Regions from separate parts of the Homo sapiens genome. Here region 1 is linked to region 2. The links come from fine-mapping of genetic effects on gene expression. Tissue or cell type: whole blood. Region 2 holds a variant in brackets; the other region holds the start of a gene. All regions are shown on one strand. Distances are between the middles of the regions.

Evidence for each region.
Region 1: JAK2 starts here. The variant in region 2 is fine-mapped to the expression of JAK2 in whole blood (TOPMed, PIP 0.92).

What each region holds. Positions count from the first base shown.
Region 1 is chr9:4,983,753-4,986,772 of GRCh38, reverse strand. JAK2 (Janus kinase 2) reads right to left here and starts at 1,501. Exons shown (of 25, transcript NM_004972.4): 1 at 1,143-1,501; 2 at 751-833. RefSeq lists enhancers at 699-748, 1,549-1,688, 1,617-2,450 and silencers at 1,079-1,408, 1,799-1,878, 1,919-1,968.
Region 2 is chr9:5,061,982-5,064,481 of GRCh38, reverse strand. The region is part of intron 8 of JAK2 (Janus kinase 2); the gene reads right to left. It also overlaps a transcript of INSL6 not described here. Among named protein-coding and RNA genes, the nearest start is that of JAK2, 78 kb to the right of the region's middle. The variant C/T (reference allele first, on the strand shown) is at 1,283.

The sequences.
Region 1 (3,020 bases), 78 kb after region 2:
CAAACGAATTTCGTATTTACACTTGGGTCCCATCCTCAAGATGTCTGATTTTGTATATGCAAACATTCCAAAATTTTTAAAAAAAATCCAAAACACTTTTGGTCCCAAGCATTCTGGAGAAGGGATACAAAATCTTTATTTGCAGTAGCCCAACAACTCACTGTACAAACTTATTATGAAACCAAAAGCAATCATTTCCCTTATTCCCACTTCCAGTTTCCTTCTCCATACTCAGCCGCTCCTACCCTTTCATTCAGAGAAATGGAGTTTCTCCTAACAGATTAGTAATTACTGGAAAACAAACTGGGTAAATTCAACCGACACAGCAAGCTTAGGCAGATAAAACCATGAGGAAACATTCAATGTGGTAGCAGAAACCCCAGCAAGAATAGCTAACGTGTTCTCCCAAAAGCTATCTCTTATTGCTTGGAAATACTCCTCTTTAAAGGATTAAGAATCTCTGGCTGCTTAAGAAGAAAGGGTAATGGACAACGTTTTTCGTTTCTCTGCAAAGTCACGTTATGTGTAAAGCCAACAAAAAAATGTTTCTTAAAGGATCCAAGACGAACAACAAAACACCCCAAAATTACTCTCCCAGATCAACATTAAAAGTTTAGCACTGACATTTTCAGAAGAGTAAGCAACAATGAGCCCTGCCTCTCTTCACACGCTTCCAACCTTCCCTACGCACGCACTCCCAGCTCCAGACACCTTCGCCTTTACTGCAGCGATAAAGGACAGCACACCCACCGTCGCGGGAGGAGGAGGAAGAGCCTCTTTTTCTGCAGAAGAGAAACAGTTCACATCTTGTTCCTGTTGCCTGCTTCTGAAACCTAAAAACAGAAGCAGCAGTTAACTACTACCACATAAATCCAGGGGAAACAAATGCTTTTTCTAGGCTGTTTAAGTGTCTAGAAAATTTTAAAAAGGAATAAGGAGGCGGGAGCGAGGGAATTATAAGACACAAATGGAAGCAAATATCACCAGCAAGACTCGTTCTAGGTGTCGTCTTAAAGAGGAAGATTTTTCTGGCTCAGAAGTTTGCTGCCACTAGCAGGGGGCAGGCGGGACCAAAAGGTAGGAAGGGGGTGGAGAGACAGCTGCTGCCCCCCACCCAGAAGCCAGGCAGAGATAACACCCACCGGCTACACAGATCGGGCGACCAGAGCGCGCCCTCGAGCCCGCAGGGGCGGCTCCTACCCGGCGGGTCAAGGTCTGCGAAGCCCCGGGACGGGCACGGCTCTGAACGACCTCCAGGCTGGGCCCTCGGGGGCCCTCCAGTGTGGGCTCAGCTCCCACTCACATCCCTCGGCAGCGAGGACCAGGCCTCTCCCTGCGCCGCAGCAGCCCTCAGCCCCGACGCGCGCCGCAAGCCCGGGCCGAGGGGCCCGACCGGCCGAGAAGCCGAAGTGGCGACGCGAACACCCAAGCGAGCCGGGCGCCGGCCCAGCCTGTCAGCGCCGAGGGAGGCCGTTAGCGGCGTCCGCTGCTGCCCCCTTCTGCTCCTCTTCCTCTCTCCTTCCTGCAGCCCCACACCACTCCCACTTCGGGCAGCCGGGAAGCCCGTCACAGTTGTCTCCACCCTCTCCGGGGCCACACCGTCTTCTCAACGCCGCGGGCGACACTGGCTTCGCCGCCCTGCTAGCTTCGAACTCAGCCTCCCGGTTGGCCTGCAGTCTCCCCGAATGGCAGGAGACCGGGCCGGATAGAGGCTGGGGGAGAGCCGGACGCGCGTCCTGCAGTGCGCGTGCGCCGCTCGGTGCTGGTCGCGGGACCGGCAGGCGCGGGCCACGCAGGGCAGCTGCCTCTCGGGAAGCCGGCGAGCGCGCGTGGAGATTCCTGGGACGGCCCCTGGGCGTGAGCGCGCAAGGAAGTTAAGGCGGCGGCGCCTCGCGAAACGCTGGTGCCCGGCTGGAGCTAGGCGCCAGCGCTGGGCCCGGCCCTCACTAGATGGGCGGGTGTGTGTGTGGCCGCCGCCCTCCAGGGAAGCGGCCGGGAGTGACTCACCCTGGCTGGCTCCCCAGCGCGCAGCCTGCACTGGAGGAGGCCGGGCTGCCTCCGCGCGGAGACTCCCCTCCCGCACACTTCTCCGCTTTCGGCTTTTCCTTCCACCTCCCGGGTACAGCAGACCCGTCCTTCCCCAGTCCAGGCTGCTAGGCCGAGGGGAAGTGGCGCCGGGGGCCGGGGACAACGCGCTCACACACGCTGTTTCGTGGCAATGCGCCCTCGAGAGCCTGACTCCCATCAGCCACCTTGGCTGGAAAGGGGTGAGGGTGGGATGAAGCGCCCAGCCGCCTGCGGGTTGGCAACAAGGCCTAGCGAATGTTTCTCCTAGAGGAGAAACAACTTTACCGGCGTGGCCTGGTGTAGCCCGGGAGAGGGTGGAGACAACGGCTGTGACGGGCTTCCCGGCTGCCAAAGGGCCTCATTCATTCATTCAAATATTTACTGAGTGTCTACTAGGTGCCGGGCTGTAGGTCCCCAGAGATACCAGGTGAACACGACCCCACACACTCCTTGCCCTACTGGATTGTATTCTGATGGAAGCGACAAAACAACAAACAACGCTTTAAATGCATAATGTGCGGGGTGTGTAATTGCCACTAAGAAAATGCATAGTTTTCTGCTGCCATATACATAATAACAAAGAAAAGGAGTAGAAAGTGAGGAGGGGGTGTGCTATTTTACGGTGGCCAGGAACGATTTCCTAGAATAAGTGACATTTGAGCAGAGATCTGAAGGATGAGAATGAACCAGTCCCATGACTATCTGGGAAAAGAATTTCAGGCAGAGGGACTCCTGAAGGCAAAGACCTTGAGAAGGGAAAGTGTTTGGCAAGTTCAAGGATCAGGAAAGAGGTCACTGTGGCTGGAGGACACGGAAGGAGGGGGCAGTGGTAAGAGGTGAGGCCAAAGAAGTAGCCTGGCACCAGATCGTGTAGGGATTTTTTTCAAGTATTAGCCCTCTTTCTGTCAACCTAAATGAAGTGACGCATTCATAGCTCCTGTTTCCCCATACAC
Region 2 (2,500 bases):
CTTGGCTCACTGCAACCTCCACCTCCCAGGCTCAAGCGATCCACCCACCTCACCCTCATGAGTAGCTGGGATTACAGGCATATGCCGCCATGCCCAGCTAATTTTTGTATTTTTAGTAAAGACAGGTTCTCGCCATGTTGGCCAGGCTGGTCTCCAACTCCTGACCTCAAGTGATCCACCCACCTCAGTCTCCCAAAGTGTTGGGGTTACAGGCGTGAGCCACGGCATCAGCCCTACATACCAATTACATACTGCTAAAGTATTCATGCTACAAACTAAAATGTTAGGATATGTAGCTATGCTATGATTTTTTTGTGGCCCCCGCCCAGTCAGAGTCTTGCTCTGTCGCCCAGGCTGGAGTGCAATGGCGCGATCTTGGCTCACTGCAACTTCTGCCTCCTGGGTTCAAGCGATTCTCCTGTCTCAGTCTCCCAAAAAGCTGGGATTACAGGCACACGCCAAGACGCCCGGCTAATTTTTGTATTTTTAGTAGAGACAGAGTTTCAACATGTTGGCCAGGCTGGTCTCAAATTCCTGACCTAATGATCCGCCCGCCTTGGCCTCCCAAAGTGCTGGGATTACACGCGTGAGTCACCATGCCCGGCCTGATTGTATCTTAATACATATGTGAACATGTAGTCAGCCAAAAATGCAGCATGTTACTTACATGGGAAAATATATAGACGTATTATATTTTTACATACAAAAAGTCAGTTATATAATGAAAAAAGCCCCATTTGTAACAAAGAGGATGCAATATCAATAATTAACAAAAACTTCAAAACACTCTTATGCAACTTTTTATTTAAATATATAGAAGATTAACCATGGTAGGAAAATTCAATATCATAAAAATGTAAAAATCCTCTCTAAATTAATTTTCTAATTTGTCTCAATCACATTAAAGATACCAACAAATACCAGAGGCTGTACCTAGAAAAACAGGGCAAACATGAGATTTAGAAAATCAGATCCAATATAAGAGAGATGAAAACATAGTTACCAGGATAAGAAAGGAATGACCAAAAATTACAGCTGACAAAATAATAGCTGTACCCAGAAAACTTCCAGTCCACACTACAAAGTAAGATGCTGTGATCGAAGAGGTACTTCTCCAGAAAAGAAGTAAAAATGCTATCATATATGACAGGTTTGATTATGTGAAATTTTGTATTGAGAAGTCCACTACTTTACAGAGTTCTTGTAGAAAATGAAAATAAAGCTAGATACAAAGGAAAAATCATAAAGCAATAATTAACTCCTGGAAAAAGTTATATAAGAA[C/T]GAAAATGTGATTACAGCATATTTCTTGGCCCAGCAATGAACAATATTTACATAATCATAAAGAGAACACAGAATAGAGTCCTCAACCAAAAATTATAATAAAGAGACAAGCATGTGACATGTTTGAACTATAAAAGGTATTTAGCTAACACAAATAGCCAAAAAAACAAGTACTATAAAAGGTATCCTAAACAAAATTAAAAGACTTGGAGATTACAAACATGTATAACAAAGGAATATACCTAACATACATTGTGGGAATAAAACGTATAAAACAATTAAAAATAAAAAAAGAAAACTAGTCAAAGGACATGAAAAGGCAATCCACAGAAGTATAAATATTAAAGCTGACCTATAAACACATGAGGTATTGCTCAATCTCAGGTTCTAATTAAGGAAATGAAATATAACAGGACAGCATTATTTTGCCCATTGATTTGGCAGAAAAATTAAAAGATTGATAACATCCAGTGTTGGCAAAGGATACAAGAAAACAGGTGTACAGATACATTGGAAACACCTTTTGAGAAGTATTTTAATAATCTATCAAAGTTGTAAATATTCATACCCTTTGAACTAGCAGTTCACTAACTAGTATCCCTCTTATTGATATACAGACACATTTTGTTTTACTGCACTTCCCTTTATTGCTCCTTGCAGATATGACCTTTTTTTTTTTTTTTTTTTTTTTTTTTTTTTACAAATGGAAGGTTTCTGACAAACTTAAGTGGAGCAAGTACAAGTCTATCAGTGCAATTTTTCCAATAGCATATGCTTACTTCCTATGTGTCATGTTTTGGTAATTTTCACAAAATTTAAACTTTATTACTATTATACCTGTTACGGTGATTTGTGATCAATGACCTTTGATGTAACTATTGTACAGTTGTCCCTCAGAATACAAGGGGGATTAGTTACAGGACCCCTGCATATACCAAAATCTGAACATATTCAAGTTCTGAAATCAGCCCTGCAGAACCCATATATGCAAAATGTCAGCCCTACACATATGCAGGTTTTGCATCCTGTGAATACTATATTTTCCATCCATGTTTGGCTGAAAAAAAATTGCATATAAGTGGACCCACACAATTCAAACCTGTGATGTCCAAGGGTCAACTGTAATTGTTTTGGGGCACCACACACTGGGCCTATATAAGATGGTGAACTTAAGTGATAAATTTGTATATGTTCTGACTGCTCCACCGAATAGCTATT